Homo sapiens: one gene and its partners. The protein of the gene in region 7 purifies or fractionates together with the protein of the main gene of each other region. This does not show direct contact. Each region holds a gene or a part of one and is shown on either strand. Other genes may lie near its edges.

What was found.
Region 1: the proteins of FAM131B (region 7) and SEH1L purify together in Homo sapiens (affinity purification with mass spectrometry; one large-scale study listed by BioGRID and IntAct). This does not show direct contact.
Region 2: the proteins of FAM131B (region 7) and ZNG1C purify together in Homo sapiens (affinity purification with mass spectrometry; 2 studies listed by BioGRID and IntAct, with this or other methods). This does not show direct contact.
Region 3: the proteins of FAM131B (region 7) and MTNAP1 purify together in Homo sapiens (affinity purification with mass spectrometry; 2 studies listed by BioGRID and IntAct, with this or other methods). This does not show direct contact.
Region 4: the proteins of FAM131B (region 7) and PRR14L purify together in Homo sapiens (affinity purification with mass spectrometry; one large-scale study listed by BioGRID and IntAct). This does not show direct contact.
Region 5: the proteins of FAM131B (region 7) and ADCK1 purify together in Homo sapiens (affinity purification with mass spectrometry; 2 studies listed by BioGRID and IntAct, with this or other methods). This does not show direct contact.
Region 6: the proteins of FAM131B (region 7) and NCAPH2 purify together in Homo sapiens (affinity purification with mass spectrometry; 2 studies listed by BioGRID and IntAct, with this or other methods). This does not show direct contact.

The regions. Positions count from the first base shown.
Region 1 is NC_000018.10:12,978,702-12,982,543, reverse strand, and holds part of SEH1L (nucleoporin SEH1), read right to left. Parts: intron 3,793-3,842; coding exon 3,652-3,792; exon of another isoform or gene 3,651-3,651; intron 27-3,650; coding exon 1-26. UniProt on the Homo sapiens protein: Component of the Nup107-160 subcomplex of the nuclear pore complex (NPC). The Nup107-160 subcomplex is required for the assembly of a functional NPC.
Region 2 is NC_000009.12:68,293,754-68,297,371, forward strand, and holds part of ZNG1C (zinc-regulated GTPase metalloprotein activator 1C), read left to right. Parts: intron 1-3,618.
Region 3 is NC_000017.11:73,235,169-73,239,010, forward strand, and holds part of MTNAP1 (mitochondrial nucleoid-associated protein 1), read left to right. Parts: intron 1-307; 5' UTR 308-314; coding exon 315-1,827; coding exon of another isoform or gene 1,828-1,928; exon of another isoform or gene 1,929-3,470; intron 3,471-3,842. UniProt on the Homo sapiens protein: Critical regulator of mitochondrial DNA (mtDNA) abundance. Binds dsDNA throughout the mitochondrial genome without sequence specificity and controls mtDNA copy number by promoting its replication.
Region 4 is NC_000022.11:31,733,116-31,736,957, forward strand, and holds part of PRR14L (protein PRR14L), read right to left. Parts: intron 1-3,842.
Region 5 is NC_000014.9:77,798,649-77,803,148, forward strand, and holds the start of ADCK1 (aarF domain-containing protein kinase 1), read left to right. Parts: upstream 1-1,460; 5' UTR 1,461-1,522; intron 1,523-4,500. UniProt on the Homo sapiens protein: Appears to be essential for maintaining mitochondrial cristae formation and mitochondrial function by acting via YME1L1 in a kinase-independent manner to regulate essential mitochondrial structural proteins OPA1 and IMMT.
Region 6 is NC_000022.11:50,514,547-50,518,388, reverse strand, and holds part of NCAPH2 (condensin-2 complex subunit H2), read right to left. Parts: intron 2,670-3,842; exon of another isoform or gene 2,642-2,669; coding exon of another isoform or gene 2,615-2,641; intron 1,943-2,614; coding exon 1,841-1,942; intron 963-1,840; coding exon 907-962; intron 813-906; coding exon 728-812; intron 649-727; coding exon 580-648; intron 417-579; coding exon 337-416; intron 262-336; exon of another isoform or gene 257-261; coding exon 111-256; intron 1-110. UniProt on the Homo sapiens protein: Regulatory subunit of the condensin-2 complex, a complex that seems to provide chromosomes with an additional level of organization and rigidity and in establishing mitotic chromosome architecture.
Region 7 is NC_000007.14:143,359,746-143,364,048, forward strand, and holds the start of FAM131B (protein FAM131B), read right to left. Parts: upstream 2,969-4,303; 5' UTR 2,859-2,968; coding exon 2,831-2,858; intron 2,336-2,830; exon of another isoform or gene 1,961-2,335; intron 405-1,960; coding exon 295-404; intron 23-294; coding exon 1-22.

The DNA of each region.
Region 1 (3,842 bases), on a different chromosome or scaffold from region 7:
GCCCACCAGAGGAAGTCAGTTCTTTCCTGTTAATAAAAAACATTTTCTGAGGCATTCCAAACAAAGTTTTAAAACATATATATATACACACACATATATATATACACACGTAAAATTCTAAATTAATACAAGTGGTCTCGCCACCACATCACTTTATAATAATGTGCACATCTGCCCAAACCCCACACCTTGGCCCTTGAGCTGGGCCAATGTCATTTTCATTTAACTCGCCAAGACCTGGAGTGATCCCAGCACATAAATGATACTCAGTGACTGTTTCATGGAAGAAAGAAACAACAAAACAGGATGATTTTATTCTCCCACACAAGGCAGAAGAATAAAATAGATGACAATAATTAATTTAAAAAGGCAGGGCAAGGCCAGGTGCAGTTGCTCACACCTGTAATCGCAGCACTTTGGGAGGCCAAGGTGGACAGATCACTTGAGGCCAGGAGTTCAAGACCAGCCTGGCCAACATGGCGAAACCCCATCCCTACTAAAAATACAAAATAAAAAATTAGCCAGGCATGGTGGCGGGCGCCTGTAGTCCCAGCTACTCAGGAGGCTGAGGCATGAGAATTGCTTGAACCTGGGAGGTGGAGGTTGCAGTGAGCCAAGATCAAGCCACTGCCCTCCAGCCTGGGCAACGGAGTGAGACCTTGCCTCAAAAAAAAAAAAAAAAAAAAAAAAAAATGGGCAGGGCAGCAAGTAGGAAAGAATGAAAGAATGGAAAGAAAAGAACTGAAATTCACAATTCAAAATTAAAGTTAAATATGTTATTCACAAGACTGTCTCAATACTAATTTAGTTTTCCCTAAATAGACTGCCACTTGTCATTAAATATTTATAGATTATCAGTTATATTTGGAGAATTGTTAGTTTCAGCCTAAATAAAGCACAGTTAAGAGAATATAAATCTGCTCTTGACTCAATTCCCCTTTCCAAAAAGACATATATTTATATATAAAATGTTCATTAAATAATCCATTCTTCAAAAATGACATTAATTTAAAAGTAACTGTAGGTGTTGGCCGGGCTGGTCTCCAGCTCCTAACCGCGAGTGATCCGCCAGCCTCGGCCTCCCGAGGTGCCGGGATGGCAGACGGAGTTGCATTCACTCAGTGCTCAATGGTGCCCAGGCTGGAGTGCAGTGGCGTGATCTCGGCTCGCTACAACCTCCACCTCCCAGCTGCCTGCCTTGGCCCCCCAAAGTGCCGAGATTGCAGCCTCTGCCCGGCCGCCACCCCGTCTGGGAAGTGAGGAGCGTCTCTGCCTGGCCACCCATCGTCTGGGATGTGAGGAGCCTCTCTGCCTGGCTGCCCAGTCTGGAAAGTGAGGAGCGTCTCTGCCCGGCCGCCATCCCATCTAGGAAGTGAGGAGCGTCTCTGCCCGGCCGCCCATCATCTGAGATGTGGGGAGCATCTCTGCCCGGCCGCCCTGTCTGAGAAGTGAGGAGACCCTCTGCCTGGCAACCGCCCCGTCTGAGAAGTGAGAAGCCCCTCCGCCCGGCAGCCACACCGTCTGAGAAGTGAGGAGCCCCTCCGCCCGGCAGCCACCCCGTCTGGGAAGTGAGGAGCATCTCCGCCCGGCAGCCACCCCGTCCGGGAGGGAGGTGGGGGTCAGCCCCCCGCCCGGCCAGCCGCCCCGTCCGGAAGGGAGGTGGGGGGGGTCAGCCCCCCGCCCGGCCAGCCGCCCCGTCCGGAAGGGAAGTGGGGGGGTCAGCCCCCCGCCCGGCCAGCCGCCCCGTCCGGGAGGTGAGGGGCGCCTCTGCCCGGCCGCCCCTACTGGGAAGTGAGGAGCCCCTCTGCCCGGCCAGCCGCCCCGTCCGGGAGGGAAGTGGGGGGTGTCAGCCCCCCGCCCTGCCAGCCACCCTGTCTGGGAGGTGAGGGGCGCCTCTGCCCGGCCGCCCCTACTGGGAAGAGAGGAGCCCCTCTGCCCGGCCAGCTGCCCCGTCCGGGAGGGAGGTGGGGGGGTCAGCCCCCCGCCCGGCCAGCCGCCCCGTCCGGGAGGGAGGTGGGGGGGTCAGCCCCCCGCCCGGCCAGCCGCCCCGTCCGGGAGGGAGGTTGGGGGATCAGCCCCCCGCCCGGCCAGCCGCCCCGTCCGGGAGGGAGGTTGGGGGGTCAGCCCCCCGCCCGGCCAGCCGCCCCGTCCGGGAGGGAGGTGGGGGGGTCAGCCCCCCGCCCTGCCAGCCGCCCTGTCCGGGAGGTGAGGGGCGCCTCTGCCCGGCCGCCCCTACTGGGAAGTGAGGAGCCCCTCTGCCCGGCCAGCCGCCCCGACCGGGAGGGAGGTGGGGGGGCCAGCCGCCCCGTCCGGGAGGGAGGTGGGGGGGTCAGCCCCCCGCCCGGCCAGCCGCCCCATCCGGGAGGTGAGGGGTGCCTCTGCCCGGCCGCCCCTACTGGGAAGTGAGGAGCCCCTCTGCCCGGACAGCCGCCCTGTCCGGGAGGGAGGTGGGGGGGGGTCAGCCCCCCGCCCGGCCAGCCGCCCCGTCCAGGAGGGAGGTGGGGGGGTCAGCCGCCCGTCCGGGAGGGAGGTGGGGGGGTCAGCCCCGCGCCCGGCCAGCCGCCCCGTCCGGGAGGTGAGGGGCACCTCTGCCCGGCCGCCCCTACTGGGAAGTGAGGAGCCCCTCTGCCCGGCCAGCCGCCCCGTCCGCGAAGGAGGTGGGGGGGTCAGCCCCCCGCCCGGCCAGCCGCCCCATTCGGGAGGTGAGGGGTGCCTCTGCCCGGCCGCCCCTACTGGGAAGTGAGGAGCCCCTCTGCCCGGACAGCCGCCCCGTCCGGGAGGGAGGTGGGGGGGTCAGCCCCCCGCCCGGCCAGCCGCCCCGTCCGGGAGGGAGGTGGGGGGGTCAGCCCCCCGCCCAGCCAGCCACCCCGTCCGGGAGGTGAGGGGCGCCTCTGCCCGGCCGCCCCTACTGGGAAGTGAGGAGCCCCTCTGCCCAGCCACCACCCCGTCTGGGAGGTGTACTCAACAGCTCATTGAGAACAGGCCATGATGACAATGGTGGTTTTGTGGAATAGAAAGCGGGGAAAGGTGGGGAAAAGATTGAGAAATCGGATGGTTGCCGTGTCTGTGTAGAAAGAAGTAGACATGGGAGACTTTTCATTTTGTTCTATACTAAGAAAAATTCTTCTGCCTTGGGATCCTGTTGATCTGTGACCTTACCCCCAACCCTGTGCTCTCTGAAACATGTGCTGTGTCCACTCAGGGTTGAATGGATTAAGGGTGGTGCAAGATGTGCTTTGTTAAACAGATGCTTGAAGGCAGCATGCTCGTTAAGAGTCATCGCCACTCCCTAATCTCAAGTACCCAGGGACACAAACACTGCAGAAGGCCGCAGGGTCCTCTGCCTAGGAAAACCAGAGACCTTTGTTCACTTGTTTATCTGCTGACCTTCCCTCCACTATTGTCCTATGACCCTGCCAAATCCCCCTCTGGGAGAAACACCCAAGAATGATCAATAAAAAAAAAAAGAAAGAAAAAAAAGTAACTGTAAAAGACCATTTTTAAAAAACATTTCAAAGTTTACATTTTTAAGTAAAACTTCCAGAGCAGAAATATAAACCAAATCATAGTTACCTCTACTCTCTCCTCCACAAACAAAGGTAATCAGAAGGCAAGAGTATTTTCAAATTCATAAATGCTTCTAAAACTCACCTCACAGGCTTTAATGTAAAAATTCTCACATCTTTGGTCGCTATTGCTAGAATATGGAAAGATCTTCCCAAATTTGGAGCGAATGCAATATCATGAACAGGATCAGTGACTGTCATAAGAGTTTCAGCTTTTGCATATTTCCTAATGGAAAAACAATTGACATTAACATTTTAGAAATAAAATGTGCAAAA
Region 2 (3,618 bases), on a different chromosome or scaffold from region 7:
ACTGACAGCACTGGACAGGTCATCAAGACAGAAAGTCAACAAAGAAACAGTGGATTTAAACTATACCTTGGAACAAATGGAGTTAAAAGATATATACAGAATATTCCATCCAACAACCACAGAATATACGTTCTGTTCAACAGCACATGAACTTTCTGTAAGATAGACCATATGATAGCCAACAAAATGAGCCTCAATAAATTTTAAGAAAATTAAAATTATATCAAGCACTTTCTCAGACCACAGTGGAATAAAACTGGAAATCAACTCCAAAAGGAACCTTCAAAACCATGCAGATACATGGAATAACCTGCTCCTGGATGATCTTTGGGTCAAAGATGAAATCAAGATGGAAATGTAAAAATTCCTCAAACTGAATGACAATAGTGACACAACCTATCAACCTCTGGGATACAGCAAAGGTGGTGCTAAGAGGAAAGTTCATAGCCCTAAATGCCTACATCAAAAAGTTGGAAAGAGCACAGACAATCTAAGGTCACATCTCAAAGAACTAGAGAAACAAGAACAAACCCAGCAGAAGAAAGAAGATCAGAGCGGAATTAAATGAAATTGAAACAAAACAACAAAAAAATCCAAAAGATAAATGAAACAAAAAGCTGGTTCTTTGAAAAGATAAATAAAATTGATAGACCGTTAGCAAGATTAGCCAAGAAAAGAGAGAAAATCCAAATAAGCTCAATAAGAAATGAAACGGGAGATATTACAACTGACACCACAGAAATACAAAAGATATTCAAGGCTACCATGAACACCTTTACATGCATAAACTAGAAAACCTAAAATAGATGGATAAATTCCTGGAAAGATACAACCCTCCTAGCTTAAATCAGGAAGAATTACCCTGAACAGACCAGTAACAAGCAGGGAGATTGAAATGGTAATTAAAAAATTACCAACAAAAAAATGTCCAGGACTAGACGGATTCACAACAGAATTCCACCAGATATTCAAAGAAGAATTGGTACCAGTCTTAAAGACACTATTCCACAAGAGAGAGAAAGAAGGAATCCTCCCTAAATCATTCTATGAAGCCAGTATCACCCTAATACCAAAACCAGGAAAGGACATAACCAAAGAAGAAAACTACAGACCAATATCCTTGAACATAGATGCTAAAATCCTTAAGAAAATTCTAGCTAACTGATTCCAACAACATATCAAAAAGATAATCCACCATGATCAAGGGGTTTCATACCAGGGATGCAGGGATGGTTTAACATACACATGTGCGTAGCCAAAGCAAGACTAAGCAAAAAGAACAAATCTGAAGGCATCACATTACCTGATTTCAAACTTATACTATAAGGCCATAGTCACCAAAACAGCATGGTACGGTTATAAAAATAGGCACATGGACCAATGGAACAGAATAGAGAACCCAGAAATAAACCCAAATACTTACAGCCAACTGATCTTCAACAAAGCAAACAAAAACGTAAAGTGGAAAAAGGATACCCTTTTCAACAAATGGTGCTGGGATAATTGGCTAGCCACATGTAGGAGAATGAAACTGGATCCTCCTCTCTCACTGTATACAAAAATCAACCCAAGATAAATTAAAGACTTAAATCTAAGACCTGAAACTATAAAAATTCTAAAAGATACCATTGGAAAAATCATTCTAGACATTGGCTTAGGCAAGGATTTCATGAACCCAAAAGCAAATGCAATAAAAACAAAGATAAATAGCTGGGACTTAATTAAACTAAAGAACTTTTGCAGAGCAAAAGGAAAAGTCAGCAGAGTAAACAGACAACCCACAGAGAAGGAGAAAATCTTTCATAATATATACATCTGAAAAAGAACAAATATCCAGAATCTACAATGAACTCCAACAAATCAGCAAGAAAAGCAGTCCCATCAAAAAGTGGGCTAAGGACATGAATAGACAATTCTTAAAAGAAGATATACAAATGGCCAATAAACATATGGAAAAATGCTCAACATCACTAATGATCAGGGAAATGCAAATCAAAACCACAGTGCGATACCACCTTACTTCTGCAAGAATGGCCATAATAAAAAAATCAAAAAAATAGTAGATGTTGGCATGGATGTGGTGAACACGGAACACTTCTACACTGCTGGTGGGAATGTAAACTAGTACAACCACTATGGAAAACAGTGTGGAGATTCCTTAAAGAACTAAAAGTAGAACTACCATTTGGTCCAGCAATCCCACTACTAGATATCCACCCAGAGGAAAAGAAGTCATTATACAAAAAAGATACGTGCACACGCATGTTTATAGCAGCACAATTCGCAATTGCAAAAACGTGGAACCAACCCAAATGCCCATCAATCAATGCGTGGATAAAGTAACTGTGATATATATACATACAATGGAATACTCCTCAGCCATAAAAAGGAGTGAATTAATGGCATTCACAGTGACCTGGATAAGATTGGAGACTATTATTCTAAGTGAAAGAACTCAGGAATGGAAAACCAAACATCGCTATGTTCTCACTCATAAGTGGGAGCTAAGCTATGAGGATGCAAAGGCATAAGAATGACACAATAAACTTTGGGGACTCAGGGAGAAAGGGTGGGAAGGGGATGAGGAATAAAAGACAAAAATTGGGTGCAGTGTATACTGCTCAGGTGATGGGTGTACCAAAATCTCACAAATCACCACTAAAGAAGTTAACCAACACCACCTGTTCCCCAGTAACCTATGGAAAGAAAGAAATGTCTCATATGTTTCTGCCTAAATTGGTCTTTAATACTTTAGCGATTCTCTTGAGTTTGGATTATAAAATAGTTTTTGGTCTTTTTGTATTTTCTGCTGTAAGCCTGTATGATTATGTAATGGTGAGTAAAATTGCTAGGCCAGATACGCAGTTCTAGGAAGTTATGCAAAGATGTGCTTTAGTATATTATTTTCTACCTTTTTAAATTCATTTTGAGCTTGGCTTTTGAGCCTCTATTTTCCAAGGTGGGGTGTATGTTTTTATAATGTTATGCTTAGCCCTTGTGTATTTTCATCTCTGAGTTTGAAATTTGGGGTTATATTGGCAAAGGGAGGTTTGGGTTTTAATTAGGTGACCTGTTAGAGGAAATGTTAAGCTTCTGTTTCTTTAGGGTAGACAGTGAGAGATTTATCAAGATAAAGAAGAAAAATAAATCCTAAAGTTAATATTCAATACATGATGATGTCACCCTTACTAAAGCCAAAGAGGGCATTATCCTATCATTCTCATCGCTAAGAACTCTTCTCCTCTTGGCACATGCTTATTCAGTTAAAGATAAGCCAAGCCTTTCTTTTGTATTTTTTTTTTAAGAGAACAAATTTACTTTGGTTTTGAGTTTTATTCCTGGCTCTGGGTAGCTTATTTTTTTGACCCTTATTTTCCCCAATTTATAAAATGAAATAGTTATCTTCACTCCCCAGGATTGTTGTGAAGAGTAAGTCAAAAGATACAATGAGGTGACTCAGGCAAAAGTACCTGGCCCTGTGTAGTGAGTACATTGTATGTGTTACATATATTCTTATTCCTGAGAATCCACGAAAGAATGAATTAAATAATGAGGACCCTTTCATCAGGGTTTCTGAGTGAGTTTTTTAAAATACAAGGTAGTAGTTTGTGTAAATAC
Region 3 (3,842 bases), on a different chromosome or scaffold from region 7:
GATATTGTGCCACTGCACTCCAGCCTGGGTGACAGAGTGAGACTCTGTTTCCAAAATAAATAAATAAATAAATAACCTTTGGTTCCTGGCCTAAGTTTTTTATTCTTTACCATTCTGTCCTTGAATAACGTGTTTAAGGGTTTTTAAACAATTTTTTATACTCATATAATGACTAGTTGACTTGCTGTAACCGTAAGTAGCAAACATCTAGCTTGTTCCAAATGAATTTAAAAGATACAACACATAAGTAAAATATTGGTATGTACAAACTATGTGCTTCTCATAATCTCACATTTACCTTTTTCAGGAATAGGATGAGTGATAATCCACCCAGAATGGAAGTGTGTCCTTACTGTAAGAAGCCATTTAAACGATTAAAATCCCACTTGCCATACTGTAAGATGATAGGACCAACCATACCTACTGATCAAAAAGTTTATCAGTCCAAGCCAGCTACACTCCCACGTGCTAAAAAGATGAAAGGACCAATCAAAGATTTAATTAAAGCTAAAGGGAAAGAGTTAGAGACAGAGAATGAAGAAAGAAATTCTAAGTTGGTGGTGGACAAACCAGAACAGACAGTGAAGACCTTTCCACTGCCAGCTGTTGGTTTGGAAAGAGCAGCTACTACAAAGGCAGATAAAGACATCAAGAATCCAATCCAACCATCCTTCAAAATGTTAAAAAATACTAAACCAATGACTACTTTCCAAGAAGAAACCAAGGCTCAGTTTTACGCATCAGAGAAAACCTCTCCTAAAAGAGAACTTGCCAAAGATTTGCCTAAATCAGGAGAAAGTCGATGTAATCCTTCAGAAGCTGGAGCGTCTTTACTGGTTGGCTCAATAGAACCTTCTTTGTCAAATCAAGATAGAAAATATTCCTCAACTCTACCTAATGATGTACAAACTACCTCTGGTGATCTCAAATTGGACAAAATTGATCCCCAAAGACAGGAACTTCTAGTAAAATTACTAGATGTGCCTACTGGTGATTGTCATATTTCTCCAAAGAATGTCAGTGATGGGGTTAAAAGGGTAAGAACATTATTAAGCAATGAGAGAGATTCCAAAGGCAGGGATCACCTCTCAGGAGTCCCTACTGATGTTACAGTTACTGAGACTCCAGAAAAGAACACAGAATCCCTCATTTTAAGCCTTAAAATGAGCTCATTAGGTAAAATCCAAGTCATGGAGAAACAAGAGAAAGGACTTACCCTGGGAGTAGAGACGTGTGGGAGCAAAGGAAATGCAGAGAAAAGTATGTCTGCAACAGAAAAGCAGGAACGGACTGTCATGAGCCATGGCTGTGAGAACTTCAACACCAGGGATTCAGTCACAGGAAAGGAGTCTCAAGGGGAAAGACCACATTTAAGTTTGTTCATTCCGAGGGAGACGACTTACCAGTTTCATTCTGTATCGCAGTCAAGTAGTCAAAGTCTTGCCTCTCTAGCTACAACATTTCTTCAAGAAAAGAAAGCAGAAGCCCAGAATCATCATTGTGTCCCTGATGTAAAGGCATTAATGGAGAGTCCCGAGGGACAGTTATCTCTGGAGCCCAAATCTGATAGTCAGTTCCAAGCATCACACACTGGGTGCCAGAGCCCTTTATGTTCAGCCCAGCGTCACACTCCTCAGAGCCCCTTCACCAATCATGCTGCAGCTGCTGGCAGGAAGACTCTTCGCAGCTGCATGGGGCTGGAGTGGTTTCCAGAGCTCTATCCTGGTTACCTTGGACTAGGGGTGTTGCCAGGGAAGCCTCAGTGTTGGAATGCAATGACCCAGAAGCCACAACTTATCAGTCCCCAGGGGGAAAGACTCTCACAAGGTAAACAAGCTTATTTTCAATTGCCATCTGTCCCATCCAAAATGCTCTCTCTGCCTTTTGAATTTATAAGGGTCAAAATACTAACATTTTCAGTCATTTAGTTTATTTTCACCTAGGCATGCCAGTAGACTGCATATAAAGTTGTCCTGAAAGAGGCTGGGTGTAGTGGCTCACACCTGTAATCTAAGCACTTTGGGAGGCTGAGGCCAAGGCAGGTGGATCACTTGAATTCAGGAGTTAAGACCAGCCTGGGCAACATGGTGAAACCCCATCTCTACTAAGGATACAAAAAATTAGCTGGGTGTGGTGGCGCACCTGTAGTCCCAGCTATTTGAGAGGCTAAAGTGGGAGATCACCTGATCCCGGAAAATCAGGGCTGCAGTGAGCCGAGTATGTGCCACTTCACTGCAGCCTGGGCGACGGGAATGAGACCCTGTCTCAAAAAAAAAAAATTGTCCTGAAAACATTACTTCTTGCTTCAGTGGTCAGTAGTGGTGGTTTATCCCTCTCTTTTTCTCTCCCCCAAGAGTTGAGGGTTACACTAGGGCAGGCTGGCGATACTGAAAGCAGTTGAGTTTCTGCCTTGAGAAGAGGCATGTCCAGTAGAAACTGGATGGGTAAACAGACTGGAGAAAAATATAAAGACTTGAAATTCAGCTAGATAGAATAAGCACTGTGTTCAGAATCCAGTCAGGACCAGGTTGTACAAGAAATAGGTTCTAAGTTTACAGGACAAGAAATAGGTTCTAGGTTTCAGGCAAATGCAACATCTAGGAATTTAGAGTAGCAAAGTAGGATGCAGGTGGTAGGACACAGGTAAAACTAGCCAGGTAAGACGGGCAGGCAAGGCAGATAAGTGGAAGTGGAGGCTCAGGAAATGAACAGTGAAGATCAAGGACCAGAAACGGAGGATGTGGCCAAAAACAAAAGAAAAAATGTAGGCCACAGAGACTAGGACCCAAGAATAAAACCAGTGATTGAGCCTGGAAACAGGAGAGATGAGGCGAGAAGGGCTTGGGGCGAAAGACTGAACGTTGAAACTCACCTTGATTATGAATCAAACTTCAGAAGCTTCCTAGAGGCTCCTTTTGCTGATGGCTGGAATCGGTTAACAGGAGGGAAGACCAAGGCCCAAGGAGCCAGGAAGTTCCTGACAGTCATTTGAAATATCTTTGCTTTTCTCTGCTGAATCTCATCTTTAGTTATGAGACCACCTCTCTAGTTAAAATACATAAAGTTTCTTAAGCTTTTCTAGGGGCAGGGTGATTGTAAAGTAGCATACCTGTCGTTTGTAAAGTAGCATACCTGTCGTGTGTAGTGGCCATTGGTGCTTTCATGCTTATTTTGACAGGAGACCTGTAACAACTCAGAATAGGTTTGCAAGAGAAAAACTGGTATTATCTCTTCCTAAAGGGAAATCATTTTCTTCTCTGGTAGATTTTGCAAATGATCTCATATTCACTAAACCTCTATTTGCCTGGTCTCAAAATGGATGTGTACTAAAAGCAGAACATTGCTAGCCCAAAGCTACATTTTCTTTAACTACCTTCTATAAACAGGCCTAACGTCTAGACCTTTTTGCACAAAGTTGTAGTCACAAAGTCAAGCCCCTTCTCCGTAATAAACACATTTAATTATATTAACATTTGTGTTGCTTTGTGGTTTTCAGAGTGCCTCCATCTGTATTTTTTTTATTTTGGGCACAAGGTGGACAGAGAGGTGGGCAGAGTGAATTTATCCTATTTTGTGGATGATGAAACAGGCACAGAGAGCATAAGTGATTTGTCCAAGTTTGTGTTGCCAATAAATAGTAGAGCTGCAAGGAGAACCTAGTTTCCTGAGGCCTAGTTTAATCTTTTCCACTAAACCATGTTGTAGAAAATACACCATAACTAAAACCATGTTTGTTATAGTGCCATACTTTTCTGTGTGTGTGTGTGTTTTGTTTTTTTGTTTGTTTGTTTTTTGAGACAGAGTTTTGCTCATTGCCCAGGTTGGAGTGCAGTGGTGTGATC
Region 4 (3,842 bases), on a different chromosome or scaffold from region 7:
TAGCTGGGATTACAGGCGACCGCCACACGCCCGGCTAATTTTTTGTATTTTTAGTAGCGATGGGGGTTTCACCAGGTTGGCCAGGCTGGTCTCGAACTCCTGACCTCAGACCTCAGGCAATCCACCCATTTCGTACTCGCAAGTGCTGGGATCACAGGTGTGAGCCACCGCGCCTGGCCACTGTTTTTTTTTTTTTTTTTTTTTTTTGAGACGGAGTCTCGCTCTGTCACTCAGGCTGGAGTGCAGTGGTGCCATCTTGGCTCACTGCAACCTCCGCCTTTGGGGTTCAAGCGATTCTCCCGCCTCAGCCTCCCAAGTAGTTTGGATTACGGCCATGCATCACTGCGCCCAGCTGATTTCTGTATTTTTAGTAGAGACAGGCTTTCACCATGTTGCCCAGGCTGGTCTCGAACTCCTGATCTCAGGTGATCCACCCGCCTCGGCCCCCCGAAGCGCTAGGATTACAGGCCTAGAAGTCTATCTTTTAAGGCAGGTTTCCTTAAAGTGTTCGGTGAACAGGTCGAGGCACCAATAGTTTTGTTAAATGTTGCCAAACTGCTCCTCAGAAAGGTTGTATCAGTTTGCATTCCCACCAGCAATGTATTAGAATGTCTGTTTCCTCATAGCCTTGCTTGAACCAGATACGTTGTCATACATTTTCATTTTCACCCATCTGATAGTCAAAAAGCGACACCCTTAAATCAAAGGGAAAAAAGTGGTATCTCTGGTTAACTTTGCATTTCTCTAATTACACGAGGCTGACCATCTCTTATGTTTAACCACCACCACCACACACACACACACACATACACCACACAAACACACACACACACAGTTCATTATCAAGTCTTCCCATTTTTTTCTTTTTCTTTTTTTGAAAGGGAGTCTCACTCTGTCGCCAGGCTGGAGTGCAGTGGCACAATCTCGGCTCACTACAACCTCTGCCTCCCAGTTTCAAGCAATTCTCCTGCCTCATCCTCCCGAATAGCTGGGACTAAAGGCATGCACCACCATACCCAGCTGATTTCTGCATTTTTAGTAAAGATGGGGTTTCACCATGTTGGCCAGGATGGTCTCAATCTCTTGACCTCATCATCCTCCCGCCTCAGCCTCCCAAAGTGCTGAGATTACAGGTGTGAGCCACCACACCTAGCCCAAGTCTTATCATTTTTCTATTGGGTTTGGTTCTTCATTCCTCAATTCAAGAGTTCTTCATGTATTACAGATATAGACCCTTTATCTCTGATATACATTGCAAATATGTTCTCTCAATTTGTCAGCTGTCTTTTGACTGTGGGATATTTTGTCAATATAGCAAGAGCTCTTATAAATTGAGATCAGGGGATGCCTGGGGTTTGCAAATCTGAAATGGTATGCAAGTGGTATGTCTGCTTTTCTGAAAGGTCTGCAGTGTTCAGATTTCCAAAGGGTCCTGTGACCTGAGAGTGATTAGGAGCTGTTGCTGCTGCCCCACATCTTCCACTGGCCTAACTGTGCCCCACAGGACCACTTCTGCTGAATGACCTCTAAATTGCTGAAGGCTTCTCTCACGTCTCTTGACTGTTCTCTTTCACAAGTTACACACCCAATGACCTGGCCTCCAGATGCATATTTTCAGGTTGTGTCATTAGTGTGAATACTTATCCATGAATGCATTCCTGGTTTTCTATACCTCTCACACACATGACAACAACAGGAAAGTATAATACTCTAGCTGTGGCCTAACCAGCACACAACAGAGCATGACCACCACTTCTCAGTCCAGATAACACATTTCCCTTAATGATATTAAGAGCAAATTGGCTTTTCCTGGAACAAAGTCAATTCTAATTGACCTGCTAAAACCTGCAGGTCTTCCGTTTCCCCTTTCCCCGTAAGTATTTCTGTTTCTTTTCAATTGTGGAGATCACTTTTTGAAACTGAGTACAAAATGTTAACATTTATATCAATTAAATTTCATTCTGCTTTATACAATTCAAAATGGAATATACACTGGTGGAGCTGGGAGGGAGAAAAGGAATGATTTTAAAAAAGAACAGGGTGGCGGGGCGCGGTGGCTTGCGCCTGTAATCCCAGCACTTTGGGAGGCCGAGGTGGGCGGATCACGAAGTCAGGAGATCGAGACCATCCTGGCTAACACGGTGAAACCCCGTCTCTACTAAAAAAATACAAAAATTTAGCCAGGCGTCATGGCGGGCGCCTGTAGTCCCAGCTACTAGGGAGGCTGAGGCAGGAGAATGGCATGAACCTGGGAGGTGGAGCTTGCAGTGAACTGAGATCGTGCCATTGCACTCCAGCCTGGGTGACAGAGCAAGAATCTGTCTCAAAAAAAAAAAAAAGAACACTGAGATAGTAATCTAGTTCTTAGGTTGATTGTTATGTAAGCATGTGTATGTATATGTATGCATATATAAACACATATATACATGTGTGTGTTCATTATACTTTATGTGTATTACGCATGCTTTTATATCAAACATTACATTAAAAAACTTTTCTCTCCTGAAGTGGCAGGTCCCTAAATTGGAAAAAAAAAAAAAAAGAAACTTTTCTTGTTAGACTCAGCCCACCACATCAAGAAGTAACACAATAGGAACTCTGGGATCCTTAGCCTTTTACCTATTTAACTGTATTTTTAAAAGATAGGGCATTGGCCGGGCGCAGTGGCTCACCCTGTAATCCCAGCACTTTGGGAAGCTGAGGTGGGCGGATCACCTGAGGTCGGGAGTTCGAGACCAGCCTGACCAACATGGTGAAACCCTGTCTCTATTTAAAAAATACCAAAAAATTAGCCGGGCATGGTGGCAGGCACCTGTAGTCCCAGCTACTCAGGAGGCTGAGGCAGGAGAATGGCGTGAACCCGGAAGGCGGAGCTTGCAGTGAGCTGAGATTGTGCCACTGCACTCCAGCCTGGGCAACAGAGCAAGACTCCATCTCAAAAAAAAAAAAAAAAATTAGCCAAGTGTGGTGGTGCATGCCTGTAGTCCCAGCTACTCAGGAGGCTGAGGCAGGAGAATGGCGTGAACCTGGGAGGCGGAGCTTGCAGTGAGCTGAGATTGCGCCACTGCACTCCAGCCTGGGCAATAGAACGAGACTCCATCTCAAAAAAAAAAAAAAAAAATTAGCCGGGTGTGGAGGCACATGCCTGTAATCCCAGCTACTCGGGAGGCTGAAGCAGGAGAATTGCTTGAACCCAGGAGGTGGAGGTTGCAGTGAGCTGAGATCGCACCATTGCACTCCAGCCTGGGCAATAAGAGCGAAACTCTGTCTCAAAAAAAAAAAAAAAAAGGCATCACAGTGTAAACTCAAATATCATGTTCAAATGTTACTTAATGCTTCATTCATTCCTAATCATAGTCACTGTATGAAGCCCACTAACAACAATTAACTGCCCTTTATCCTGTGTAAAGAAAAGATATATGTATCAAGAGCGGGATGGGAGCCTAGCCTAGGCAGCCCAAAGAACATATGAACCTGATGGTGGGTCTAGAGCAGGGGTTGGCAAACCACAGCCCTCAGGCCAGCAGCCTGTGCTAATAAAGTTTTATTGGAATACAGCCACATTCATTCATTTATGTATTGCCTCTGCCCACTTTATGCTACAATGGCAAAGCTGAGTTGTTCCAAAAGAGACCATATGAGGCCAGGCATGGTGGCTCCTGCCTGTAATCCCAACACGTTGGGAGGCTGAGGCAGGTGGGTCACAAGGTCAGGAGTTTGAACCCAGCCTGGTCAACACAGTGAAACCCCGTCTCTACTAAAAATACAATAAATTAGCCGGGCGTGGTGGCCAGCGCCTGTAATCCCAGCTATTCAGGAGGCTGAGGCAGGCGAATTGCTCG
Region 5 (4,500 bases), on a different chromosome or scaffold from region 7:
GCGATTCTCCTGCCTCAGCTTCCTGAGTAGCTGAAATTCCAGACGTGCACCACCACACCAGGCTAATTTTTGTATTTTTAGCAGAGACAGATTTCACTATGTTGGCCAGGCTGGTCTCAAATTCCCGGCCTCAAGTGGTCCGCCCACCTTGGCCTCCCAAGGTGCTGGGATTACAGGAATGAGCCACCGCACCCGGCTTAATTTTTCTATTTTTAGTAGAAATGGGGTTTCACTATGTCGGCCTGGCTGGTCTCCAACCCCTAGCCTCAGGTGATCTGCCCGCCTCAGCCTCCCAAAGTGCTGGGATTACAGGTGTGAGCTACTGCGTCCTGCCCAGCCAGCATTATTATTATTATTTTTGAGACGGAGTTTCGCTGTTGTTGCCTAGGCTGGAGTGCAATGGCGTGACCTCGGCTCACCGCAACTTCTGCCTCCCGGGTTTCTAGTGCCTCAGCCTCCTGAGTAGCTGGGATTACAGGCATGCACCACTAGGCCTGGCTAATTTTTGCTATTATTAGTAGGGACGGGGTTTCTCCATGTTGGTCAGGTTGGTCTCAAACTCCCGACCTCAGGTGATCTGCTAGCCTTGGCCTGCTGGGATTACAGGCGTGAGCCACCGCCCCGCCAGCATACATCAATTGTCAGTAAATTTCTTCTTCGCCTACTAGTTCCAATATCTTATTTAAAATCTATGGCCCGGTGAGGTGGCTCAGGCTTGTAATCCCAGCACTTTGGGAAGTCAAGGCGGGTGGATTGCCTGAGTTCAGGAGTTCAAGACCAGCCTGGGCAAAATGGCGAAACCCCGTCACTCCTAAAAATACAAAAAATTAGCAGGGCGTGGTAGCACACTCCTGTAATCCCAGCTACTCAGGAGGCTGAGGCAGGAGAATCACTTGAACCCGGGAGGCGGAGGTTGCAGTGAGGCGAGATGGGCCACTGCACTCCAGCTTGGGCGACAGAGTGAGACTCTGTCTCAAAATGAATGAATGAATGAATGAATGAATGAATAAAATCTACGAGGTCGGGCGCAGTGGCTCACTCTTGTAATCCCAGCACTTTGGGCGGGCGGATCATTTGAGGTCAGGAGTTTGAGACCGGCTTGGCCAACATGGTGAAACCCCATCTCTAAAAAAAATACAAAAATTAGCTGTACTGCTTGGGCGACAGAGCGAGACTCAGTCTCAAAAAAAAAAAATCTACAAATCCACTTCATCTTTCATTAAACACGAACCTGGGACGTAGTTAGAATGTCTTGAAGAAAATATTTCAGTAATATTCCAAGTCCGTCGCCCTGGCAAAGCAACAAGGCCACCTGACGGAGTAAGCCCGAGACCCCTGTGCCTCCACAGTACTGCCCGCGGGATCGCGGCGTGGGGAACCAGGAACTACAAGTCCCGGCAGGCCGCGCGCGCCTCGGCTTCACTAAGCGCAGTCAGGTGGCTGTCCCCGCACGGTTCCCAGCTAATTCCCCGCTACCGGGTTGCGGCCGGAAGCCGGGCGCCGCGGCTCTGCTTCCCTCGGGGTGAGTAGGGGCAGCTCGCCGGAGGCCGGCGCAGAGCTCGGGCCGACCAGCCTGGCAGGGCCGCACCGCGCCTGGAGCGCGAGGGAACCGGCATGGACACGCCGGGAGTCGGCCTCTGCTCCGGTTGTGCAGCCGCCCTGGGCGCCGGGAGGGACAGCCCCATGACCTTGTCACCTGGGCCCGGCGCGCGGCCACGTGGCTCGGGTGACTCGCATTGCCCCGCCCCCCTGCAGTGACTTCTCCAGTTTGGCACACCAGTGGGCTTTCATGTGACCTGTCCACTTCAGTGGCACAGTCTTGCAGGCACCCGAGTGGGCAGAGCTGGAGGAGGGCCGGAGGTGGCTCACCCAGACGCCTTCACCCCCTGGTGGCCCTGTGAGTTCCGAGGCAGAAGCAGCTGGAGCTGGAGCGTGGTCTGGGCAAGAGCAGGGGGCGATGCCCATATCCTGGCCCTCCACCCGGTCTTGCGAACGTGCCCCAGACCGCTGCTTATCTCCAGCATCTTGCAGGGCCCTGGGCTTCCAGATCACACAGTAGATATGTGCTAACAGCAGCCAGTGTGTGTGGAGAGCAACCTTTAGATAAGACACCTAGAACAGCCCTCTCCCAGGGTTAAGTGGCATTTACTTTCTACTAACAAGAAAGTCATTCAACAAGTATTTATTGTTTACCTCCATGATACTTGGCACTTAGTAGGTGCTCAAGAAATATTTGCAGAGTTGAAGTGAATTAGACTTTATCTGTGGCTTCATATGTTTTATTTAATAATTTTCTTGGGGCTGGATGTGGTGGCTGATGCCTGTAATCCCAGCACTTTGGGAGGCCAAGATGGGAGGATTGCTTGAGGGCAGGAGTTCAACACCAGGCTGGGCAACATAGTGAGACTCCCGTCTGTATTAAAAGAAAAAAAGGAAAATAAATAAAATAATTTTCTTACTACAGTGGTTCTCAAACTTTAGCATGCACCAGAGTCACCTGGAGAGCTAGTAACAACACACAGTACTGGACCCCATCCCCAAAGTTTCTGATTCTGTAAGTCTGGTATGAGGACCAAGAATTGGCGTTTCTAACATGCACCCAAGTGATGCAGTTGCTGTTGGTCTGGGGACCATACGTTGAGTACCACTGCTTTATAGGAAAAAAAATCCTGTGAACTTAAAGCACTATCTCTTCACACCTGGTTACGGGTCTTTCTGTCTTTATTTGCCAGTTTTACTTTTTTGGTGATTGTAAATATGTGCATATTACTTTGTACACTGTTAACTCCCTCCATATTAATTTATATACAGATTTTAATGTAGTCTATACTTGTCATTTTTCCTGGTTACATCATATTCTACCTTATTGGGTCATTCTTTGCTTGGCCATTTCTCAACTGGCCTCAGGGATGTGCGATTTGATCTGTACTAGAAGAGTGTGCATATTCTTACTTTCTGCTATGCAGTCATTTTCTTGTCAGACAAAGGACCTGTAAGAATATTAGTTGGGGCCGGGTGCGGTGGCTCACACCTGTAATCCCAGCACTTTGGGAGGCTGAGGTGGGCGAATCACTTGAGGTCAGGCGTTCAATGCCAGCCTGGCCAACATGGTGAAACCCCATCTCTACCAAAAATACAAAAAAATTACCTGGGCGTAGTGGTGTGTGCCTGTAGTCCCAGCTACTTGGGAGGCTGAGGAGGAGAACAGCTTGAACCCGGGAGACGGAGGCTGCAGTGAGCCGAGATCGTGTCACTGCACTCCAGCCTGGGCGACTGAGCAAGACTCCGTCTAAAAAAAAAAAATTTAGTTGGGTCAGCCATCCATTTCTTCACCAGGGTAACTCACTAAATATGCCTCCTGGGTTAAGGTTTCCATGTTGCAGGGACTCCAGTGGCCTATTTCAGGGCCCAGCAAGCTGCTTGTTCTTGTGCACTTTTTGCTCTCTTGGTGGGAGCAGTCATACATGGATTCAAGTTCTGCCTCCATCACTTACCAGCTCCTTGGCCAAGTTTTCTACCTTTTCTAAAACACCACTTCCTTATCCATAGATTGAAGCTCTAATAGCATGCACCTCGGAATCTGGTTGTGTGAGTTAATGAGCTAATAAGTGCTTGGTACTGTAGCTCTCCCGTTGGAAGCTCACTCTCTTCTCTTACCTGCTGCTTGCTCTTTGCATCTGGCTTTGCCCTATTCTCCCTCAGTCTGCCTTTCCTAGGATGGACTGAATGGAGGATTTCTATTCCTTGCCTGGGTGAGAATTATTTTTGTTGTCTATTCTGGGACCTTGGCATCAGTCAGGGATTCCTTTTTTTATTTTTTGAGACAGAGTGTTGCTCTGTCGCCCAGGCTGGAGTGCAGTGGCACGATCTTGGCTCACTGCAGCCTCTGCCTCTCGGGTTCCAGCAATTCTCTTGCTTCAGCCTCCCGGGATTCCTTTATTTAATCAACATTGATTTAAGGACCTTGAGTGCTTAGGCATCAAACACTAGGAAAGGGAGTTTGATTAAAATTTGGTTCCTAGCCGGGCGCGGTGGCTCACGCCTGTAATCCCAGCACTTTGGGAAGCCAAGGCGGGCGGATCACGAGGTCAGGAGATCGAGACCATCCTGGCTAACATGGTGAAACACCGTCTCTACTAAAAAAAATACAAAAAAATTAGCTGGGCGTGGTGCCGGGTGCCTGTAGTCCCAGCTACTCAGGAGGCTGAGGCAGGAGAATGGCTGGAACCCGGGAGGCGGAGCTTGCAGTGAGCCGAGATTGCGCCACTGCACTCCAGCCTGGGCGACAGAATGAGACTTCATCTCAAAATAAATAAATAAATACAATTTGGTTCCTGGACTACATTACTATCTTAGGGAGGGCAGACTGTAAACCTGCTCAGGCCAACTTCACACAGTCCCTTGCTATTGACTTGGTGTCTTTGGCATCTTTCCAGACTTGAGGCATGATGGTATCATTCACTTTGTGTGCTTTCTATCCATATCAGGGACCAGGTTCTT
Region 6 (3,842 bases), on a different chromosome or scaffold from region 7:
AGACAGGGAGCTCCCAAGACCAGAGGTGGCAAGCACAGGGCACCCCACAAGAGTCCAACCAGAAGACCCTCCCTTCCTTCCCACCAAGCCCCCCGCATCCAAGCCCTCACCCTTCTGGGTCCCTGGCATGGGGGAAACGCCCGCTGGTTCCATGGGGGACATGCCCTCTGGCTCCAACATGAAGGCCCCTCTGGGGTGGGGAACGCACGTGTTCATCCTGAAATCCTTCCGGCTGGCCAGGACCTCACCCTGACGGCTGTGCTGGCAAAAACACGCCTGCTGTAGAGACCCTTCCCAGGCAGGCCTCCCTCCCCGTCGCTGGGCTCAGATCCCTACCTGTACAGGGGATTGTTGTTCTTCTCCATTTCATCAGGGGCCACCAGGGCCATGGGCAGGAGGGGGATGATGAGGACCTCCTGCATGGAGGCCAAGGGTGGGTGAGCCAGGCACCCTTCCACTCCAGTGGAGAACAGGACCCACATGGGGCAATGACACCTTCCCACACCCCATCAGCTCAACACAGCCCCAGGGAAAGTGCTGACCTCACCCCAGCCTAAGAGGGGCCAGGCCAGGACTCACACTGGGCGTCTGATCATTCTTGAGATCCACGTTAGTCCGGGAGTCAGGGAAGTCATCCAGCGACAGGAACTGGAGGGAGACAGAGCTCGTGGGGGCGGAGCCCAGGCAAACACACAGTGGGCGGGGACCACATGCCAAAGAAACTCACCTCATTCTCTGCCTCCTGGGGGACCCCGGAGCTGGCAACCCCATTGGCCCTGTCCTCCTGCACCGAAGAGAGCTGCTTGGCCCGCCTGAGAGAGAAGCACATCCCGTGGGCATCCCAGGAGCTGCAGGGGCCTCCCTGGCCACATGCAGGGCAGCACAGTGAGTGGCTGCAGAACTCACCTCTTTCCAGAGATGAAATCAAGGGCCTGGTAGACGAGTGAGTAGAGGTATTCCACCTGGTGACCAGATGCAGGCAGTGAGGACCCAGAAAGGAGGGGCCCACCCCCAAGGCCTTCCCAGCTATCCATCGGTGCCCCCACGAGGCCTGGCCACCACCACCAAACCTCCAGTACAAGAAACCACCAATTTTGGTTCCAAAAATAATTCTCAAATCAAACCAGGAATCTCATGAGAATTACTTTACCAGCTGAGGCCACCCACATCTCTCCTCTGCCCTCTATGGTCCACGCAGCCGCGAGCGTGGCCTTCTCAACGTGTGACCCTGACAGCACTGTGGTTCCCACAGTGTGCCTCATCACACGGTCCTTGGTGGTGAGGCCCCTCGTGCTTGGCACCCACTCTGCCGACGGCCTGCAGCCCTGCTGCTCCTCCGCCCGTGTGCTCCCGCCAGCATCACCCCAGCCCCTCCTCCTGTCCTGGCCCTGCCCTGTCCCAGCTCCTGCCGCCACGGGGCCTGCAGGACAGAGCCCGTCACTCACTTCCTGTCCTTCTCCTCCACAGAACAGAGGCCCCACCGTGAGGGTGGTGGTTGTGGACTTTCTAGGTGCTGACAATGAGGCACCCACAAGTAGGGGACGGGGAAGGGGAAGGTGGGTGCAGGTGGCACCCTGGGCTGTGTCCAAGTGCACACAGCAGGTGTCATTCCCCCAAGACAACAGAGCCCAACAGCACAAAAGACCCTCCCTGCCTGGCTGTGCGATTTTAAATTAAAAATTGTTCTTGGTGTTGGAAGGTGCTGAGGAATTGGCTGAGACCTGAGGAGAGAGGGAGGTAGGTCACAGACGGGACGACCACTGCACCTGCCCCAGAAGGAGAGCCGACTGTGGTCCCACTGGCCACCAAAATGCCAAGACCAGCGTCAAGCAGGGCCCACCTTCTTACTGTAGACGCAGGCAGAGCCCTGGATCAACAACGCTGCCTCAATGAAGTTCATTGTGGTCTTGCCTTCGTCAAAAGAAATGCAGATCTGATCCAGCTGCAAGAAACAACACAAAGACAGGGGGAATCCAAGGCCCAGTCTGCACTCGCTTCTTCCAGGGCAGCCCCACCCATCTTTGGTCTCTGCCCAGCACCTCCCGAGACGGGCAGCTCTAGCTATGCTGTGGGCTCACCGGTTGTCCCTGGTATTTCGGGGCAGAGACAGGTCTCTGTGTTTCCCCCTACTTCCTATAACAAAAACCTGTTTTGGAAGTGGAAGGCCCCCAGGGCACACTGTCTACAAACAACCAGGGCAGCACAGCGGCTCCCTCCACAAGGCGCCAGAGGCTGACAGACTCCAGCAGGAAGATCCCCGACACAGAGAAGAAAAGGGAACCTCAGGGGTAGGAAAGGCAGAGATAAAATGCTGAGGTCTCCATCCTCTGAGCAGAGAACTCAGGAAACAGTTACAGGTGAGTCGCCATCCTTCCTCTGCTCCCCTCAGCCTCCCGGAGCCCCAGCTCCTCTGTCACCCCTTAAACGTCAGTGCGCCAGGCGCTCCACCCCCCGCCATGCACATTCCTTCATCCCATGCCCAAGCTGCCAACCATAAGCCAATGAGCCCCAAACCCAACCCGACCAGCTCTCTCTCCTTAGCTCTGGGGCTGCATTCATAGCTGTCCACAGAGTACATTCAAATGTCCCCAAACACTTTACTTCCATACTTTACCCAACATCTTCCCCAACGCTGGCTCATCTCCTGTATTCCTTCTCAGCAAATGACACTTTAAAAAAAAAAAAAAAAAAAAGGCCGGGTGCGGTGGCTCACACCTGTAATCCCAGCACTTTGGGAGGCCGAGGCGGGCAGATCATGAGGTCAGGAGATCGAGACCATCCTGGCTAACACGGTGAAACCTCGTCTCTACTAAAAATACAAAAAATTAGCTGGGCGTGGTGGCGGGCGCCTGTAGTCCCAGCTACTCGGGAGGCTGAGGCAGGAGAATGGCATGAACCTGGGAGGCGGAGCTTGCAGTGAGCCGAGATCGCGCCACTGCACTCCAGCCTGGGCGACAGAGCGAGACTCCGTCTCAAAAAAAAAATGTTTTTGTAGAGACAGGGTTTCTCTATGTTGCCCAGGTTGGTCTCAAACTCCTGGCCTCCAGTGATCCTCCTGCCTCAGCCTCCCAAAGCACTGGGATCACAGGCATGCACCACCGTGCCCAGCCACAAACGACACTTTGAAGCCCCTAGGTGTCTTTCCAGCTCTTCAATTTTGCATTTCCATCTGCCTGGAACACCGACCCCCAGCTGTCCCCACGCAAACTCTTTTTCAGAGCCCCTCCATTCCTGGGGCCTCTGTGCCGCTCCCTTAGTGTGATCGTGTCCCTTAGTGAACTGTGTGAGCAGCATTAGTGTAATTCCAGCCTTCTGTTCAGTGCCTGACACTGGTGTCCAGTAAATATTTGATGAACACATGCATAGATAATGTCAAAGCTAAGCCTGAAAAACGCAGAGGCTCACCAGACAGATGAAGGGAACGTGAAGGCAGCTAGCAGAGACTGGACACGTCTCTTCAGGAAAATGAGCATGATCTAAACATGGCCAAAGCATGGCGCGTGCTGGGGAGAGGCAAGATTTTAGGCACCATGGTAGCACGAAGGAGTGGCAGAGGCTGGGAAGCCATCCCCAAGGGGAGTCACTTCCATTAGCTCTTGAAGGATAAAGGGTGTTTGTCAGATCTGGGAGGAAGGGAGAGGAAACAGCAGCATGGTCGTCTACGGAGTGTAAGGACCTCGGGGGTGTTCAGGACCTGAAGAGCTGGTCCAGAAAGAAGGGAACATGGAGGAGATGGCGGCCTGGAAGCTGAGCTGCAGAAGTGGCCCTTCTCTCCAGTGACCCTCAGCCTGGCTGGCTTGCCCACTCCCAAGACACTACTGGGCTTCACTTGTCTTCTCACC
Region 7 (4,303 bases):
AGGAGAAATCAGTTCGAGTTTGCTGTGAGGAGAGAGGAAAGGGAATGGGCATCCCAGTCACTCGCAGGAATGCAAGGAAGCCCCCTTCCTCAGAGGGCCTTCCAGGAGTGCGGGATGTGGGGAGGGCTTTCCTGAGGTTGATGCCGCTAACTGGGTTCTCCATGTGGACTGCTTGGCATGTGTTGTGAGAAATGTTCTGTAGAAGTGTCAGTCTGAAGGAGTGTTTGGGTTGTTGCCTTGGAATTGAGGAAGTGCAGGCAGCCAGAGACTTGGGGTGGCTGAGTGAGGTCTCACCTCAGTCGATGGCCGATGGAGGCTGCTCCCGTGCAGTGAGCTGGTGCTGTCCATGTTGATTTGATCGACATCCTTCAGGCCCTTCCAATCCACTGCAATCACCTCATTCCCTGAGGGGGCCAGAAGGTTAGCCGCCGGCCCTCACCTCCCTGTGCAGCCGAGGCGACACCCTGGGGCCAGCCCTTCACACCCCTTCCTTACCCCAGCTGCCCATTTCCTCTTATATCCCTGCACTCTCCAAATTCTAGGGGAGACAAGTAGTAATGCTGAGCCCAAATATTCAGTTTTAGCTCAACCCAGAATAGTGCACTCAGAAAAAGTGATGTATGGCCTTATTTGTTGTTGTTTATGTGGAGGGGTCAGAGGTTGGGTTTTATCAGAAAACCAATTATTCCGTCCTGAGGACTCTTGGAGGGTTTCTGTATGGGAGCTGGGCTTTTTCTCTATTACAAGTCTACAGATAAGGGCAGAGCTGCTCTATGAGGAACTTTTCTCTATGCTTAGGGTGGAAGGGATGTGTCTCCCCCGGTGGGCCCTTCCTAAGAGTCCATGAGTCTGACTGACTGGAAGAGGACTTCCTGGGAATCGAGGCAGGAGTTGGATAGCAAGGAGTTGGGTGTGTCCTCCCAAAAACAGTGAGCAGAGAAACCAAGGGTGAGCTGGAGGCATTTCACCTGACTGTGGGGAGAGAAGTGATGGATTAAAGTGGAGGGAAGCTGGTGAGCAGGAGGAGAAAAGAGAACTTTTTAAAATAGGAATTAAGAAAATAGGAATTCAAGTCAGAGAGAAGACAGAAGATGGTGGGAGGGGTGGACAGGGTCTGAGGGCTGAGTGGGAAACTGCAGGACTCAGGGGAAGGAGGGTCCTTGTTACAGCCGGGCCAGAGCTCCTGGTGGAGGGAGACTCCTGGACTGAGGGCAGGATGGTGCCGCGGAGAGTCTTGCGGAAGAACTGCTTGGGTCTTCATAAAGGGACTATTCAAGCAGCAGATGGCTGCCTGAACCATCTGACCGTACAGGCCCTTTATACTCATGAGGTTTTACAATTGTGAGTTTAGGGGTCGGCTCCATTTTTGGGAAGGGGAGCATTGAATGGGGCTGGGCACGAGGAGGCATTCAGCACATCAGCAGGGCTGGGGGAAAGGAAGGGGCTTGTGGTGAACCGGACTGAGGAGGGAGGACCCTCCAAAGTTGGCCTGCTGTCCCCTGGGGCTCCGCGGGGTGGTGACTGGGGGAAAAGAGGAAAGATGGCCCTCCGGACACAGCAGGAATGGGGCAGGTGGAGAAGAGCCTGAGGAGAAGGGAGACAGGGGAGGGCGGGGTGCGGGGGGAGAGGGGAGCGGGAGGTGGCCTTTGTGAGAGACGGAGAGCTGAGTCAGAGCTGTGGGGGGCAGCGGGGAGGGAGAGAGCCGCGGAGAAGGGGTGAAAGCAGAGGAGGAGGGGGTATCCATGGAAATAAACCGGGTCTCAGGGAAATCAGGCTTCTGGAGAGTGAGTTTGTTTGTAATAATAATACGAATTATTCTCTCAGCCTGAGGTCACCGGGAGGTGTAGGCGGGAGAAATTGGGAGTTGGAAAGGGGAAGAATGGGGGAGGGGGTGGGAGAGGGCCGGATGAATTCGCTGAGCGGCGAGAGTGGAGTGGGTGCCTGGGTGGGGGTCAGGGGCGGTAGCCAGGCAGAAGCTGGAGGGAGAAGATGGATTAGGAGGCGCCTCTCTTCCCTCCCCGCGTCAAAGGTAAATAAAGAGCCGGCCCCGCCCCGCCGGCCCCCGCTGACAGGTGCAGGCGGGTCCCCGGCCGCCGAGGCAGGGCCGGCCCCACCCTCCCGGGCCGCGGGCTCCCGACCCCTCCCAGCGCCTCGAAGCCCCCATCTCCTCCCCGCGTCCCCCAGCCCCTTCCCTCCACCCGGCCCTGGCCCTGTCCCTCCGGGCGTGGAACCCGGGCTCATCCCGCCCCCGCCCCAGAGGGAAAACGCACGTGAACAAAGCGAATCGGAGGAGGCAGGAACGACAGTAAAAGGCAACGGAGAGGGAGAGAGAGATGGGGCAAAGCACCCGAGCCAGATGGAGGCGGCGGCGGGGGGTGGCGTGGGGGGCGTGCGAAAGAAACTCGGGGCTGGCGCGGAGGCCGAGGGTCCTTCGCGGGGGGCTGCTCCGGAGTGGGGGATGCGAGGAGGCGCTGGGGACGGCGGAGCAGAGGCGGATGGCCTGGAGGGGCAGGGATGAGGGGACCGAGCGTCGGGCCGAGAGGCAGAGGAGAGGAGGGCGATGGAGAGGATGGAGAGGACCGCGCCTGCGGGAGGGCGACGGGGAGAAGGAAGCGAGCCGAGCGGGATGGCAGCCCCGGAGGCGCAAGACGAGAGCGGGCAGGAAGGAGGGACAGAGGGACCGCGGGCGGACGGAAGGAAAGTGAAGGAGCTAGCAGGGCAAGGCGGGTGCGGAGCGGGGCGCCCGGAGGCGCGAGGAGAGGGATGGGGGAGGGGGTCGGAGGGCGGCCCGGGGGGCCCAGCCCTGCCCCCGCCCGGCCGCGGTACCCACCCACAGTCCGGGAGCCGATGCAGCCCATGGCTCCGGGGGCCGCAGAGCCGGGCCCTCACCGACTCGGGGCGCGCGCCGGGGGGAGCACCGGGAGCCGCGCCGCCGCCCCAGCCGCTCTGCAGCGCCGCGGCTGTCTCCGCTCGGCTCCGCTCCCCCCTCCCCTCTCCATCCCTCCCCACGGCAGCTCCGTCGCCGCCGCCGCCGCCGCCGCCGCCGCCGCCTGGCTCCCCCGCCCCGGCTCGGCTCGCCGCGGCCGGGGAGGGGGCGGCCCGGGGATTGGCTGCGCCCCGCGCCTCCCCGCCCCTGCTCCGGCCGTGCCGGGGCGCTCCCTCGGGGATCTGGGGCCGCCGTCGCCGCCCCCCTCCTCCCGCCCGTGCCAAGCCCCGCTCCCGGGGCTCTCTCCTGGAGAACCCCGGCTTGGGTTTCAGGAGCCGAGGCACGAACCCAGGGCCTACCCCGAGGTTCTGGTTGATGGATTTTGCGGGCCGGGGTCAGGGGATGCCCTGAGAGAAAGTGGGGTGGTGGTGAGAATAAAGCCAGGCCCAAGGGCCTTTGGCCACCAAATTCCGCAAACACTTGTTTTCCTCCTGGGGCCGCATCTGGGACACACACAGGAACGTGATTGGACACAGCTTTGGGCTCTGTTGTTTCGAGTGCGCTATTTTGTCCATCCAAACAGAAGGTGAAGTCTTTGCAAGTGAATCGTGTAGTCCACTTCTCTGTGCTCGCTGGACATTCAGGGGTGGGTGTGGGGATGTGCAGATAGTTGACCTCCAGGCCTGGTTGGGGATTGGAGAATATGAGGAGGACAGTTCATTCGCAGTAGACTAACAACAATGTCAGGACCCGAGGCTGGCTAGGAGACATCGTCTTGAATCCAGTTTAACTTTTCTGAGACGTGATCTTCTCGGACAAATGAAAGCAAGGCGGTCCCGAAGCAGCAAAGAGAGAGAAAGATTGGCCTCTGGCTAGTGGGACTGGGCCAGGTAGATACCTCAAGCCCCATGGGGAGGAGATGAAGGTCTAAGTTGCAAGGGTTAAATGAGCACTGTGGTTACAGCAGGTAAGAAGTGGAGTCCAGAAAAGATGCATGAGAAAGGGCAAGGAGACCCTTTTGTCTAAGGTGTACCCAGAAAGCCCAAAGTGTGAGAGAGTGGGCAGGTGGGCATTCACAGAAGCAAGTGCCCATCCAGGCTCTGACTGCACCTCGCCCACTTTTAGGTCTCTCCGAGGTTGCAGAGAGAGAAGGCAATGGGCCAGGGGTCCCTGGTGTGGGCTCCTAACAGGGAGGCTAAGTCTTATGGATGCAACTTTCTAACCTTTAGATTATGAATGGAGAGCTACATCCCATGGGGTGGCAGATGAAGATGTGCAAGAAGAAGACACTAACAACTGAATTGCAGATTGAGGAGATGAGATTATGGTGACAGAATCCATCTTCGGTGTATGTGCATGAAGAAATAAGCCAAATCT